Linked DNA regions of Homo sapiens: region 2 is linked to region 1. Evidence: fine-mapped expression QTL. Tissue or cell type: whole blood. Region 1 holds a variant in brackets; the other region holds the start of a gene. All regions are shown on one strand. Distances are between the middles of the regions.

Region 1 (8,100 bases):
TCTACTGAAAAATAGAAAAAATTAGACGGGCATGGTGGTGGGCGCCTGTAGTCCCAGCTACTGGGGAGGCTGAGGCAGGAGAATCGCGTGAACCCAGAAGGCAGAGCTTGCAGTGAGTTGAGATCGTGCCACTGCACTCCGTCTCGCTCTGTCGCCCAGGCTGGAGTGCAGTGGCACGATCTCGGCTCAGTGCAGCCTCCACTTCCTGGGTTCAAGCAATTCTTGTGCCTCAGCTTCCTGAATAGTTGGGATTATAGGCATGCACCACGCCTGGCTAATTTTTGTATTTTTAGTAGAGATGAGGTTTTGCCATGTTGGCCAGGCTGGTCTTGAACTCTTGATCTCAAGTGATCTCCCCACTTCAGCCTTGTGCCCTGCCAAGTATGCCATTTTTGAGTGCACAACTCAATGAAGTGAATATATTCACAACATCATCACTTCTATTTCCAAAACTTTCTCATCTCCCAAAAAAAGCCTTGTCCCCATGAGCAGTCACTCCTCATTCCCTTTCCCCAGCCTCTGGCGGCCACCAGTCTGCTTCCTGTCTCAGATGTGCCTGGTCTGGAAATTTCAGATCAGTGGGCTTGTGCACTGTGTGGCCTTCATGTCTGGCTTCCTTCACTCAGCATCGTGTCTTTGAGGTTCATCCACGTTGGAGCACGGGCCAGTGCGCCTTCTGCTTTGTGGCTCAGTCCCATCCCAACTGGGGAAGGTGCCTTCTGAGACAAGGCCTACAGGAGGTGAGCATGAGCGTACGGAGAGCACTGACCCTACCTCGAGGTGTCCACACACACAGAGGAGGGGCAGGAGGTGCCAGCCCTCGGGGGTGCCCATTAGACTCAGCATCTTCACAGCCACTCCAATGCTGCATCCAGGACAGACAGCAGTGAGGGGCATAGGAGGGTCCTGGGACCTAGGTGGTGGATGGTCAAGTGTCGCTGAGTTCGTGATGGAGGCGAAGGTGGCGCCACAGTACTTGCTGATGAAGAGGAGTCACGGTGCCCGAAGTCTCCGGTGGAATAGACGGGGATGGTTTTGAGGGGGAGACCGGTTCAGCTCCACGCTGTCAGGCCCAGGGTGTCCGTCCCCCAGCTGCACATGGGAGTCGCACTCATGGGAGAGGCCTGCTCTGCAGAGAGCAATTTGGAAGTCAACGGAGGCCAAAATATGGGACAGAAACTAGGAGAGGATGTCATAGAAGCAGAAAGAAGGACAGACACCAGGAGCAGAAGTGAAGCTCCACCAGGATCAAGAAGCCACCTCCAAGTCCAGCATCGGGTGTGACAGCTTCAGTGGAGTGATGGGGCCACAACTACTAGAAAATCGGAGGCTCTAGCCTCGTCAGCCCTTGGGGGGATTCAGAGCAAAGAGGTCACTGGGGGACATGCGGTGTGGGAGGGAAACTAAGGCTGTGAGCCCGGGAGAGCTGCTGGGCAGGTCCTTGAGGGAGGGAGAGGGCAGGACCTGCCGGGCAGCTCCTCTGGGTGCTGAGGACAAAGCGGTGACTGGATGTGCCTGCCAGAGGCTGGAGCTGAGCCTGTGGGCAGCTACGCCTCCAGCTCCCGCCCGCCCTCCTCTGCCTGTAGCGTGAATGCAGATCACGGTTCAGAGATTCAGAGCTAGGCCTCTTGGGGGGTTTCGATAAAAGAAATCCCCACCCCGGTCAAATTCGTTGTGCGCGTGTGTGTGTGTGTGTGTGTGTGTGTGTCACAGAGTCTCCCTCTGTTGCCCAGGCTGGAGTGCAGGGGCATGATCCTGGCTCACTGCAACCTCTGCCTCCTGGGTTCAAGCCATTCTCCTGCCTCAACCTCCCAAGTAGCTGGGACTACAGGCATGCGCCACCATGCCCAGCTAATTTTTGTATTTTTATTAGAGACAGGACTTTGCCATGTTGGCCAGGCTGGTCTCAACCTCCTGGGCTCAAGTGATCCGCCCGCCTCGGCTTCCTAAATTGCTGAGATTACAGGTGTGAGCTGCTGCACCCGCCCCACCCCCCCAACCCAGGTCAAATTCTGCACACAAAGTCACACTTTATTAATATTTTATATTGCACTATTCAAATGTGCCTAAAAGTTGGCTGCATGATAGTAACCAAGCCATAAAGGTGATTACAGGGACACAGGAGTCACCAGGGACTTGAACTGCCTGCTAGCTGTGTGGGTGCTGATAGGCGTCTCCACATAACAGGTGGGGACAATGAGGCTCAGAGGCTTTGTGACCTGCACCCCGAGCCCCTAGATAGGAGGAAGCAGCAGGGCGGGGGGCTCCCAGCCTGAAGGCAGTGGTGGTGGGTACAGTCTGGTACAGCCGCCCAGGAGGGCAATTTTCTAGAATCTATTCATATTAAAAGTGGACACGTTGAGGCTGGGCATGGTGGTTCAGGCCTGTAATCCCAGCACTTTGGGAGGCCAAGGTGGGAAAATCGCTTGATGCCAGGAGTTCAAGACCAGCCTGGACAACATAGTGACACCGCTGTCTCATAAACATTTTTTAAAATTAGCCAGATGTGATGGACACCATAGCTACTCAGGAGGCTGAGGCGGGAGGATCACTTGAGCCCAGGAGTTCAAGGCTGCAGTGAGCCGTGATCATGTCACTGAACTCCAGCCTGGGAGACAGAGTGATAACCCATCTCTATAAAAAATAAGAATGCATGTACCCTTTAGTCTCATCAATTCCCCTCCTGATTTTTTTTTTTTTTTTTTTTTTGAGGGGAATGGGGACAGAGTCTTACTCTGGTGCCCAGGCTGGAGTGCAATGGCGTGATCTTGGCTCACTGCAACCTCTGCCTCCCAGGTTCAAGCAATTCTCCCGCTCCAGCCTCTCGAGTAGCTGGGATTACAGACACCTGCCACCATGTCCGGCTGATTTTTGTATTTTTGTAGAGACAAGGTTTTACCATGTTGGCCAGGCTGGTCTTGAACTCCTGACCTTAAGTGATCCACCTGCCTCAGCCTCCCAAAGTGCTGGGATTACAGGCATGAGCCACCACACCCAGCTTTTTTTTTTTTTTTTTTTTTTTTTTTTTTTTTTTTTTTTGAGACAGGGTCTCACTCTGTCACCTGGGCTGGAGTGCATTGGTGCAATCATGGCTCACTGCAGCCTTGACCTCCTCGGCTCAAGCGATCCTTCCACCTCAGCCTCCTGAGTAGCTGGGACTATAACCATGTGCCACCACTCCTGGCTAATTTTTGTGTTTCTTTTTATTTTATTTTATATTTTATTTTATTTTATTTTATTTTAATTAATTTATTTTGAGACAGAATCTTGTTCTGTTGCCGAGGCTGAAGTACAGTGGTGCGATCTCAGCTCACTGCAACCTCTGCCTCCCAGGTTCAAGTGATTCTCCTGCTTCAACCTCCCGAGTAGCTGGGATTACAGGCATGTACCACCATGCCTGGCTAATTTTTGTATTTTTAGTACAGACAGGGTTTCACCATGTTGGCCAGGCTGGTCTCGAACTCCTGACCTCAGGTGACCTTCCCGCCTCAGCCTCCCAAAGTGCTGGAATTACAGGCATGAGCCACCGCACCCAGCCTATTTATTTTTATTATTAAATAAATAATTTTTTTTTGAGGGGAGGGGGGACAGAGTCTCGCTCTGTCACCCGGGCTGGAGTGCAGTGGCGTGAATCTCAGCTCACTGCAACCTCCACCTCCCAGGTTCAACCAGTTCTCTTGCCTCAGCTTCCCGAGTAGCTGGGACTACAGGCACCCACCACCAGGCCCAGCTAATTATTGTATTTTTAGTAGAGATGGAGTTTTGTCATGTTGGCCAGGCTGGTCTTGAACTCCTGACCTCAAGTGATCCGCCTGCCTCGGCCTCCCAAAGTGGTAGGATTACAGGACTGAGCCACCATGCTGGCCTACTTATTTATTTAGACATAGGGTCTTGCTCTGTCACCCAGGCTGGAGTACAGTGACATAGCTCACTGCAGCCTCGAACTCCAGGGCTCAAGTGATCCTCCTGTCTCAGCCTCCTGAGTATCTGGAACTATAGACACACACCACTACCTCTAGCAAGAGTGTTTTGCAAATGGTAGCTAAATACCTGGAGTGTGTGATCCTGACTGGGGTAACCGCCTCTGCCCGCCCTTGGACCACACATCACCCATATTGTGGGTCCAGCTGGGACGGGATGGTGGGCTTTCAGCTCTCAGCCTTCCTCATTTTGAAACAGCAAGAATTTGGAAAGTGAGGGATAATGCTTTCAATCTCTAGACACATCCAAATCTGTAGGAGCCTCCGCTGAGGGAACTGGGGACCTGCATTTTATTTAATTTTTTGAGACGGAGTCTTGCTTTGTCACCCAGGCTAGAGTGCAGTGGCGCGATCTCAGCTCACTGCAACCTCTGCCTCCCGGGTTCAAGCGATTCTCCTACCTCAGCCTCCCAAGTAGCTGGGATTAAGGCGCCCGCCCTCATGCCTGGCTAACTTTTGTATTTTTGTAGAGATGGGGTTTTGCCATGTTGGCCAGGCTGGTCTTGAACTCCTGACCTCAGGTGATAAGCCCGCCTTGGCCTCTCAAAGCGCTAGGATTACAGGTGTGAGCCACCATGCCTGACCTGGGACCTGCATGTTAAATGGGGCCACTGGCAGCGTTGTAGGGACTCCCAGTGGCCCGTGGGCACATGGATTGAAGCAAGAATCCCCAGCAGATCCCAAAACGAGTGGGGGACCATTTGAGGAGGGAGCCAGTGATGTTCTCACCTTCCTCAACGAAGTGCTAGGGAAACCAAGGCACAGAGAGGGAACCCTGGTGATGTGTACTGTCCCCTGCGCCCGCGTTCTGGATTCCCCAGCCTCCCACCTTGACCACCTACCTGGGACCCTCACAGGCCCATAGTGGCTCCTCCAGCTCCCAACAGACACCCTCAACCTGGTCCAGCCCAACCTGCCAGAGCCCCAGACAGGGCCGGAGTCTTGGGTTTGAGTCCTGCCTCTGCACCCTGC[T/G]TGCTCCCCTCTCTCCCTGAGCCCATTTGCCCCTCTATAAAATGGGCACATGTGCTCCTGCTCGAAGGGCTTGGTGGCAATCCCATGAGCACAGAAAGGTGCTGACGGCTGTGTCCATGCAGGGGTGCTCTCGCAAGGTCTGGGATTCTGTTTTTCCTTCTTGCCTTTGGGGACACCCAGGCTGGGAGAAGGGGGCCACTCATCTGCCAGGCTGGGAGAGCTGGAGGGTAGACGGGAGGTTGGACCGGCCCCATCTCCCTGCCCCTTCTCTACTGGGCCGCCAGGGGGCGATCTTACAATAGAAGAGGATCCGGGCATCTCCCTCTTCGCTGACCCCTCACTGCCCCTGAGTAAGCTCATTCCCACCGCAGGGAGGGCCTTTGCACTGGCATTCCCTCCGCCTGGCTAACTGCTGTACCCCTCCCTAAAACCCCTCGGAGCCCCCGGCCCTCCCTGGCTTTCTTTTCCCCTGAGCTGCCCCGTCCTCACCGCCAGCCGGTGTCCTGAGACCTTAGCTAAGGGGCTAGGAGCGTCCGCAGGGGCGGGCGCCTGGTCTTCCTCCTGGCACTGGTTCCCTCTCCTGGGATAGAGATGGGGCAACTCAGGCAGCCGCGGGCCTAGCTCCAGTCACTCTAGGTCAGTCGCCCCAACCCTTGGCTCGGAATCGACCCCTGCCCCAAGTAACGGGGTAAGGGGCTGGGCCGTGTGGCCCTAGGGAACGGGCTGCCCCTCCCTGGGCCGCAACCTTACGCCTGCCTGGCCCATGGGGGTTTTTTGGACGGAAGCGGGTCCCGGAGAGTGTTGAGGGATGAGGAGAGGCGTGGTGTGTGGGGAGGAGGTCTCTGGCGTCAGTCTCCCCACGTGGGTCACGGGTGGAAGTAACCTGCAGGTTTGCTCAGGCCAAGCAAGGTGTGCAGTGGCACCTTCAAGACCCCCATATGCAGTTTCAATTTCCCCCACATAGAGTTTCAAGGTCTCCCTCATAGTTTTAAGATGAAAGTTTTGGCAGGGTGTGGTGGCTCACATCTGTAATCCTAGCAGTTTGGGAGGCCAAGGCGGGCAGATCAATTGAGGTCGGGAGTTCGTGACCAGCCTGGCATCATGGTGAAGCCCTACTAAAATACAAAAAATAGCTGGGCATGGTGGTGCCCACCTGTAATCCCAGCTACTCGAGAGGCTGAGGCAGGAGAATAACTTGAACCCGGGAGGTGGAGGTTGCAGTGAGCCGAGATTGCACCACTGCACTCCAGCCTGGGTGACAGAGCCAGACTCTGTCTCAAAAAAAAAAAGATGGAAGTTTCTAGGGCCCCTTCATCAGTGCTTGGCAAGGCCCTATACCCACTCCCTAGTGAACATTTCTGTTCCCCTACGACTCCAGGGGGCATTTCAAGACCTAACACACTAGGACCCTCGATAAAGTTTGGAGGCCCCCACACTCTGGGGAGGAAATTGAGGCCCTGATTCAGATGCCTTGTCCTGGGCGGGGGGGCGGGTAGCGATTGCTGAGGGAGGGTGGTTGAGGCTGCCTGGGACACCCCAGCTCAAGTCCCTGCCCCTCTCCTGTGCGTTACTGAGGGTGACAATTGCAATTACAGAGCGCCTAACCCATGCCAGCCTTGCAGTCACCAGTTCCTGAAGAGGCAAAGGCCATTGTTGGTTTATTCCCCAGCTGGGGAAACAGGCTGTGAGGTTGAGTGAGGACAGGGCTTAGGTCTGACCCAAGAGGCAAGATTTTGCAGTCAGGAGTCTCTGTAATGACCCAGGAGGGGCTCATCTAGCACCCCTGTGCCCGCTGAGGAGACTACGGGAGCCATGGAGGGTGTTTGAGCAGAGAAGTAACCCAAGCCAGCCTTAAGCTAGGGACACTGCAGCAGGCACCCCCATGGCCCAGGCTGCAGCTCCCCCTTTGGCCACCAGGCGTTGTCCCGGCCTGACAAACGAGGTTTCCCAGGCCCTTGTCCTGGAGCCAGTGGGGAACTGGCTCCTACTTCCAGAATCTGCCACCACATCTTCAGGACGTAAAAGAAACCCCCTGAGCTTCTGTTTCCCCACACCGCCCCCCCGGCCCTCCCCCGCAAAGTGGAGCACTAATGGGACCAGCCTCCCCGGGAGAGGTCAGTGAGGAGATGCAAGTGAGGTGCTTCCGCATCCAGTGGGCACTCAGTGGATGTGTGGGCCACCAGCCCTGCCCGCGGCGCAGGGCAGACAGACAGATGGATAACCCTGAGACATGGCTGCAGGGTGAGGAACACGTTTCGCAGTGAGATACTGGGGTCCACTGGGACCTGCTGATCCTAGGGGCCTGAGGGGACATCCGGAGATCCAGAAGGAGGTGGAACCCCAGGGAAAGGAGGGAGTGCCCAGGCTGCACTGACCTCCCATCTGTGTGGCCAAGGAAGCCCGAATTTCCCATAAAAAATCAGCCTAGTTCGGAGCTTGCAGTGAGCCGAGATCGTGCCACTGCACTCCAGCCTGGGCGACAAAGCAAGAATCTGTCTCAAAAAAAAAAAATCAGCCTAGTTAACAGGCTTCCGGCTGCCTGGCATGACAGCTGGAAGGGAGTGAGCCCTCTGTCTTCAGGGGTGTGCAAGCTGACAAGGGGTCTTCAGCAGTGGCTGGCCAGGGGCTGGGCCAGGGGGCCACGCCAAGAGGCCTGAGTCTCCAAGAACACAGCAGGAGGTAAGTCACAGCCTGACCAGAGGGCACTAAGGATGGCACCGCCCAGCTGCTGGATTCCCCAGTCAGACAACAAGTTCCAAAGGGTTAGAGAACGGACATTCCTCGGCTCTGGGCGCCGAGCAGGCCACTCCTCCCTGGTGAAACGTAAGCTGGGCCTGGCCCCGTGGGCTGCGTGTTTTTCCAGTGGCTTTTTCAGCCACGGCCTGACCACAACCCAGATTCCGTTGGGTCGGCCATGTCCAAGTGTTTGTGTTCAGCTGGGCCAGATGGCAAGCGGGGCCGAGGCTGGGGACCCAGGCCTCCCAGAAGTCCTGGCGAAGCACCCCCAGGCCCTCACTCCAACATCCCTCTGCCTAGAAGCCCCTGCCCCGTGAAAGCCACTCAGCAGCCAGATAACAAAGGACAGGGGATGATCTCGCTGAGAAGTCCCAGGGGGATCTTGTATGTCCCGGGAGGAGGGGCCTCCCGG
Region 2 (8,100 bases), 88 kb before region 1:
TGACCACGCTACAGATGTTCAAGATCCTGGCGCTCAATGCCCTCATCCTGGCCTACAGCCAGAGCGTCCTCTACCTGGAGGGAGTCAAGTTCAGTGACTTCCAGGCCACCCTACAGGGGCTGCTGCTGGCCGGCTGCTTCCTCTTCATCTCCCGTTCCAAGGTGGGCCCCAGAGGTGCTGGAAGGCCAGGGATGCATGGGCCTGCCAGGGCCAGGCTGATATAGGCACGGGAATTGTCATCCCCAAGTTACAGGACCCAGGGCCCCAGAGATGGGGGCTGTAGCTGGGATGGCTCAGGAAATGCTGGCAGGGCAGGTGTGGACTGAGGCTCCCAGACCCCTCCAGGTGGTACAGCTTGGCGTCCACACCTGTCCACAGGTAGGGGTCCCAGGGGTGGGCCCCACAGAGCCCCACAAGCAAGGAACAATCATCAAGAGGGTAAAAAAACAACTAAGTGGGTCATAGGCTACACAGGACAGGCTGGTGGACAGCTGGGGAGGCCTGTGCGACACCGACACTCAGGCCAAGGCGTAAAGAACCAGGGGGGCCAGCGGCCAGGAACTGGACACAAAGGCCCCAAACAGGCATGGGCTGACGCAGGGAGTCCCCGGTGGCTGGAGGGGGTGGGAGATTGGCTGGGCGGGACTGTGCCTGTCCCGTGGGCTCCAGGGAGGGCAGGATCTGCTTCATGATTCTCAGGCCCCTGTGGCTGCCATGGGGAGCCTGGATGGCGGAGCCGGGGCCAGGGAGGCAGCCCTGGGCTCAGGGGTGAGAGGCAGGCAGGGATCCAGGGACTGGTGCTGACCCATGGAATCCCCCAGGATTTGGTGGTGGCTGTACACAAGGTCTCCCGGGAGGCAGGGGATGTTACTGCCTGCTGTGTGGGCAGGGTGGCCCCAAGTGAGCCAGATCCTGACTCCCCCACCCGCCTTGCTGCTGCAGCCCCTCAAGACCCTCTCCCGAGAACGGCCCCTGCCCAACATCTTCAACCTGTACACCATCCTCACCGTCATGCTCCAGTTCTTTGTGCACTTCCTGAGCCTTGTCTACCTGTACCGTGAGGCCCAGGCCCGGAGCCCCGAGAAGTAAGTGCTGCCTTGGAGGAGGTGATGTCCCTGCAGCTGAGAATAGCAGGAGGATGACTCCACAGACTTCAGCAGGAGAGGCTGGGGGTTGTCCAGGGTGTCCAGGGAGGGGCACTAGGCCAGGCAGAGCCCTAGCTCTGTGCCAGGGCAGCAGGAAGCCACACAGTGTGTGTGAGCCGGAGCAGGAGAGGGGGCCCTGACTCCCATGTGTCCTTGCAGGCAGGAGCAGTTCGTGGACTTGTACAAGGAGTTTGAGCCAAGCCTGGTCAACAGCACCGTCTACATCATGGCCATGGCCATGCAGATGGCCACCTTCGCCATCAATTACAAAGTAAGGCCTGGGCCCTGCCCAAACATTCACTGTCTGCCCACCCAGCCCCACCCCATGAAGCCATCTGTCCCTCATCCCCACAGGGCCCGCCCTTCATGGAGAGCCTGCCCGAGAACAAGCCCCTGGTGTGGAGTCTGGCAGTTTCACTCCTGGCCATCATTGGCCTGCTCCTCGGCTCCTCGCCCGACTTCAACAGCCAGTTTGGCCTCGTGGACATCCCTGTGGAGGTCAGTGGCCCTGTGGAGGTGACCCTGGGGCTCAGCTTGATGGGTCCCTCCTATGGCAGTGACCCTGAGCTGGGCTGCAGGTCTCCAGCTCACCATCCCTCCCTGCCCCGACAGTTCAAGCTGGTCATTGCCCAGGTCCTGCTCCTGGACTTCTGCCTGGCGCTCCTGGCCGACCGCGTCCTGCAGTTCTTCCTGGGGACCCCGAAGCTGAAAGTGCCTTCCTGAGATGGCAGTGCTGGTACCCACTGCCCACCCTGGCTGCCGCTGGGCGGGAACCCCAACAGGGCCCCGGGAGGGAACCCTGCCCCCAACCCCCCACAGCAAGGCTGTACAGTCTCGCCCTTGGAAGACTGAGCTGGGACCCCCACAGCCATCCGCTGGCTTGGCCAGCAGAACCAGCCCCAAGCCAGCACCTTTGGTAAATAAAGCAGCATCTGAGATTTTAAAAAGCCCTGCCTCCACCTCGTCTGTGCCACACGGTGTTTGCTGGGGGCTCGGGGACAGAGGGTCACTGAGGAAGGTCCCAGCACCCTCCCCACAGGCGTGTGATGTTGGTGAAACCCTCTGGCACTTTCAGCACTTGAACATGGACTTGTCCCTGCCCAGAGAATTCAGTGCATATTTTCTAGTTTAACAAGCACCCCCATATTTCTGAGGTCTCTTTCACATTTTAACAACTCAGGTGCTGAGAGAAGCCTTAGGATGTGTGATATTTTTTTCTTTCCCATAATACATAACAGCATGCCTTTCTCTCGGGTGGTGTCTGAGACTTGAGGAATATGATCTGCATCATTACAAGTATTGACTCTGTCCGGTGGCTCAAGCCTGTAATCCCAGCACTTTGGGAGGCCAAGGCGGGCCCATCACAAGGTCAGGAGATCGAGACCATCCTGGCTAACACAGTGAAACCCCATCTCTACTAAAAATACAAAAAATTAGCCAGGCATGGTGGCGAGTGCCTGTAGTCCCAGTTACTCGGGAGGCTGAGGCAGGAGAATGGCGTGAACCCAGGAGGTGGAGCTTGCAGTGAGCCGAGATAACGCCACTGCACTCCAGCCTGGGCAACAGAGCGAGACTCCAACTCAAAAGAAAAACAAACAAGTACTGACTCTGTCATGCTCTTTGGGGGCCTGCGCTGCTCTACCATCTCATGTCACAGTCAGGGAGCTCTGGCTGAGCATCAGCCAGGATGTGACCTGGAAACCTGGCTTGGCTCTTAGGTTGATAGTGTTATTCCTTTCAATGGACTCACTCATCACAACTCAAGAACTGCAGAGTAGGCAGCACGGAGCCAGTCAGAGAATCCTTGCCTCCTTAACAGCCAAAGCCTTTGGACACAAAGTTATAAACATACTTTAAAGTCTATTTCCAGCCCCAAAATTCCACTGTGCTGGGGGTGGGAGCATTTTTATAACAGGCGGCTTGTGGCAACCCCAGAGCTGGTGCTTTTGGACAAACCTCCACTCCCTACCTAAAAGGGCTGCTCCCTGGTGTGCTGTAATTGGGGCCTTGAGCCTGATCCAGCTTTGAGGGTCACGGAAGGGGCGTCCCCCAGGCCAGGGGTTCTCCAGCCCGAGTATTAGAATTTTGGTTGGAATCGGACAGAATATCAGGCCTCCACCAGGGGGCGCCATGGCTCCAGCGAGGCCCAGGTGGTTTCAGGGCTCCGAGAGACAACCTGGGCAAGGGGATCACCAGGGTCGCGGGTTGTGGGAGCTCCTGGGAGAGGCCCCCCGGGACAGGTGGACTCTGCAACCATTCAGGGAGGAGGGGGCTGGGGCTCCGTGGGATTTGGGGTAGCACAAAGATCTGAGAGGGAACCTATGGCCCAGATGAAGTCTTAGGATGCCCAGGTCAGGGGCACTGCAGCCTCGAGTGGTCGCTCAGGGGGCCCTGGCCCGACCCAGTTTCAAGCGGCTCAGGTAGAGAAGGGCACTATCAAGGCTTCCGGGCTACGGGGGCGTGGTCTGATGCGGGGGCGTGGCCTCCGCTGGGCAGGGCGACGCGGAACCGAGGCGGCGGCGGCGGCTGCGGCGGCAGGAAATCGGGGCTCGGCCCCGCCGGCGCGCGACCCCATCCCCATCCCGGTCCCTGCAGAGCGATCCCCGGGCCCAGATATGGACGCAGCAGAGCCGGGTAGGGGGTCGGGGATCCGGGAGGGGCCTCCCCCGACCATCCCCTGCTTCCTACATTGAGGGCACACACTTGTCCCGCTCCGTCCTGAGAGCCAGGAGAGGAGTTCCTGAATGGGAAGGACCCAGGGATCCTCCATTGTGGGGAGCCCTGTGCCCGGATGGGTTCAGGACCCCAGCCCTTCACTCCCCCTCCCCCTTTTGATCCCTCACCCCAGACGCCTGGGGGAGGGGGCCCAGGAAGGGGAAGTGACTGCTTCTGCTTCTGATTTTTGTGATGGGGGCAGGGTGCCACGACTGCTGAGGGAGAGGGCAACGCGGTAGGATCCCCACAGGGCCCCTCTGTAGCCCTGGGGAGTCGGCAGTGCTGGTCTAGGCCCCTTAGGAGAGGGGGCAGGGGGGCAGCAGTAGAAATGTGGCGGGGTCCGACTTGGTGTTTCCGGCCGTCTTTGTGTCTGTGTTGTGTATGTGGAGTGTCATTCGGTCTTTATGTCCCTCACGGCTTCAGTCTCTCCATGTGTGTTTCTGCCCCAGGCTCTGCCTGGCTGTCCCTTGTGTATTTCCATCTGTCTAGCCCGTGGTTCCATTGTCAGACCGGCTTTCTTCTCGGGACAGCCTGGTTGCATCTGGGGCATCTGTTTTGTTGGTTTGCTTCTGGGTGCAGGCAGACCCAGGGAGTGGGTGTCTCTGTTCCCCGAGCAGCTGTCTCTGGTCTCTGGTGGTGTGTGAGTCCATCTGCCTGCCTCGAGTTGGCCCCAACCAAGCCCCCCCCAGCCCTCTCTTTCTCTCTCTCACTCTTCCCTTTCTCTTCCACCCCCTCCAAATGAGACTGGTTGAGGTGCCGTGGGTGGAGGGAGGCAGTGGTTAGCCCATGTATTACACTCCCCTCCCCTAGGACTCCCCCCAGGTCCTGAGGGCAGGAAGAGGTACAGTGACATCTTCCGGAGCCTGGACAACCTCGAAATCTCACTGGGGAACGTGTGAGTCTGAGCCTGGATCACCCCCAAATCCTGCCAAGATGCCCCAAGCCCCTAACCATTTAGGTGCCTTGCAGTCCCATTTGGAACCTGTAACATCTGGACCTACATACCTAATAACCAGAGAAGTCTAGGATGGGACCCTCCAAAATGCCTCGGTATCCTAAAAGTGTCCCCCTAAATAGACTGGAAATCCCCAAAGTGGTCCTAGAACCCCTACATATCCTTGTAACCCCTTAAAATATTTGCGATCCCTATAATCCCACTCTATGAACCTCAAAGTTATCTGGGGCCCTTCAGATGCTTTTTCAAGTCCTATTTAAAAAAAACTCACCTGATTCCCCCAAAACACCATTCTTCAGACCTCCCAGACACAAGAGATGCCACAGAGGTGATGTTTGCCACAAACAACCCTAAGGTCCCCAGCACCCCTTGGCAGGACAGACTGGGTGTAAGGTGGCATCCTGACACACCTTTATCCCCCAGGACCCTTGAGATGCTGGCTGGAGACCCTCTACTCTCAGAAGACCCAGAACCTGACAAGACCCCTACAGCCACTGTTGTGAGTGGGGAGTAGGGGAACAGGGAGGAAGACCTCAAGCAGAGGGGGCCTTAGGAAGGCCAGGCCCCTGCCCTGTTTGCTTCTGAATACTGTCTCCCTCCCGCACAGACCAACGAAGCCAGCTGTTGGAGCGGCCCCTCCCCAGAGGGTCCTGTACCCCTCACAGGTAGGGGGGTCTGGAGGCCAGGACAGTGGGGACAGACAGGAGTCTTTCCTTCAACAAATCACCACTGATCCCCTGTTCCATGCAAGGCATCGTTTAGGTTTTGGGAATATGGCAGTACACACAACAGATCTCAGTCCCAGCCCTCAGGGAGACCCCAGGCAGGGTGGAGGCTGAGGTAGGAGGATCACTTGAAGCCAGGAATTCGTGACCATGCTGGGCAACAGTAAGACACCATCCCTACCAAAAGAAAAAATATTTTTTTAATTAGCTGGGTGTGGTGGTGTGTGCCTGTAGTCCCAGCTACTTTGGAAGCTGAGGCTGGAGGACTGATTAAGCCCAGGACTTTGAGGCTGCAGTGAGATACGATTGTGCCACTGCACTCCAGCCTGGATGACAGAGCAAGACCATGTCCAAAAAAATCAAACACAAGGCCGGACGCAGTGGCTCACGCCTGTAATCCCAGCACTTTGGAGGCTGAGGCGGGTGGACCACGAGGTCAGGAGATCGAGACCATCCTGGCTAACATGGTGAAACCCCATCTCTACTAAAAATACAAAAAAATTTAGCCGGGCGCAGTGGCGAGTGCCTGTAGTCCCAGATACTCGGGAGGCTGAGGCAGGAGAATGGCGGGAACCCAGGAGGCGGAGCTTGCAGTGAGGCAAAATAGGGCCATTGCACTCCAGCCTGAGCGACAGAGCGAGACTCCGCCTCAAAAATAAAAATAAAAAAACCCATCAAACACAGGCCGGGCACGGTGGCTCATGCCTGTAATCCCAGCACTTTGGGAGGCCGAGGCGGGCAGATCACCTGAGATTGGGAGTTCGAGACCAGCCTGACCAACATAGAGAAACCTCGTCTCTACTAAAAATACAAAAAATTAGCCGGGCATGGTGGCGCATGCCTGTAATCCCAGCTACTCAGGAGGCTGAGGCAGGAGAATCGCTTGAACCCGGGAGGCAGAGGTTTTGGTGAGCCAAAATCGCGCCATTGCACTCTAGCCTGGGCAACAAGAGCGAAACACAGTCTCAAAAATAAATAAATAAATAATAAAATAATAAAAAATAAAAAACAAAAAACAGTGAATCTGTAAAATTGCAACCAGGACAAGTGATCCCAAAGTAGTGTTTGGGGAGCTGTGAGGCTGTAGGACAGGTGCCACTGGGCTGGTCTGGGGGCTTAGGGAAGACATCCATAGCAGACTAGGGTGCAAAGGTCAGAGGTCCATCCATCTTCCCCAGGGGAGGAACTGGACTTGCGGCTCATTCGGACAAAGGGGGGTGTGGACGCAGCCCTGGAATATGCCAAGACCTGGAGCCGCTATGCCAAGGAACTGCTTGCCTGGACTGAAAAGAGAGCCAGCTATGGTGAGGACCTCTTCCGCCCAGCCCCAGTTACCAGGCAGTCCCCAGACCCCAGCTAGACCCAGAGCCCGGCTCTCTCTTCCCCCAGAGCTGGAGTTTGCTAAGAGCACCATGAAGATCGCTGAAGCTGGCAAGGTGTCCATTCAACAGCAGGTAGTCATGACCAGACCCCCCCGGAGAGCCCAAGCCCCCTAGAACCCCACCTTTGTCCCCCACAGATCTTCAGTATCCTCCTACACCACTCTGTCTTCCCCAGAGCCACATGCCTCTGCAGTACATCTACACCCTGTTTCTGGAGCACGATCTCAGCCTGGGAACCCTGGCCATGGAGACAGTGGCCCAGCAGAAAAGAGACTACTACCAGGTGAGGGGGGCAGGGTGGAATGTTACAGAGGTCACCCTGCTATCCTGCTGTCCTTCAGGCCTGATCCCCTCGTTTCCCAGCAAGCTGGGAGGAAGGCACCACTACCAACGTCGCCATTTCATTGATGAGGAAGCTGAGGCCCGGGGATGCTTGGGAACTTGCCCAAGGTTACCCAGCAAAGATTCAAGCTGGGCTTCCTGTGCAATTGCAAAACTTCACTTTACTTTTTTTCTTGAGACAGAATATCTTGCTCTTTTGCCCAGGCTGGGGTGCAATGGTGCGATCTCAGCTCACTGCAACCTCCGCTTCTTGGGTTCAAGCAATTCACTTGCCTCAGCCTCCTGAGTAGCTGGGATTACAGGCGCCTGCCACCACGCCCGGCTAATTTTTGTATTTTTAGTACAGATGGGGTTTCACCATGTTGGCCAGGCTGGTCTCCAACTCCTGACCTCAGGTAATCCACCTACCTCAGCTTCCCAAAGTGGTGGGATTACAGGCGTGAGCCACCACGCCCAGCCAAAAACTTCGTTTTTGTTTGTGGGGAGGGGAACGAGGTGCTGAGTGTTCTCAGGAGGAAAGCCTTGGTGTCTCTGCTTCCAAGCAGAAAGGATGGGGTGACTACATGAGACTTCTGGACTCAGGGGTCGGGGAGAGCAGGTCTGGAGAAGACCCCAGGAGGAGAATACTGACTCAGAAAAGGGTCCAGCCTGGCACGGTGGCTCATGCCTGTAATCCCAGCACTTCTGGGGGCCAAGGAGGGAGGATTGCTTGAGCCCAGGAGTTTGAGACCAACCTGGGCAACATAGTGAGACCCCCTGTCTCTACAAAAAAAAAAAAAAAGTTTTTTAATTAGCTGGGCCTGGTGCACATGTCTGCAGTGCTAGCTACTAGGAGG

What was found. PIP is the estimated chance that this variant, and not a neighbour inherited with it, causes the effect.
Region 2: it holds the start of GMIP, and the variant in region 1 is fine-mapped to the expression of GMIP in whole blood (TOPMed, PIP above 0.99).

The regions. Positions count from the first base shown.
Region 1 is chr19:19,551,687-19,559,786 of GRCh38, reverse strand. No RefSeq gene overlaps it. Among named protein-coding and RNA genes, the nearest start is that of CILP2, 17 kb to the right of the region's middle. RefSeq lists an enhancer at 7,217-7,776. The variant T/G (reference allele first, on the strand shown) is at 4,953.
Region 2 is chr19:19,639,190-19,647,289 of GRCh38, reverse strand. GMIP (GEM interacting protein) reads left to right here and starts at 3,633. Exons shown (of 21, transcript NM_016573.4): 1 at 3,633-3,779; 2 at 4,671-4,755; 3 at 5,239-5,314; 4 at 5,423-5,480; 5 at 6,719-6,844; 6 at 6,930-6,994; 7 at 7,098-7,205. The coding sequence starts at 3,761. It overlaps ATP13A1 (ATPase 13A1), which reads left to right. Exons shown (of 26, transcript NM_020410.3): 22 at 1-161; 23 at 943-1,085; 24 at 1,305-1,416; 25 at 1,500-1,643; 26 at 1,758-2,092. The coding sequence ends at 1,868. RefSeq lists a silencer at 3,540-3,789 and enhancers at 4,420-4,579, 3,801-4,756.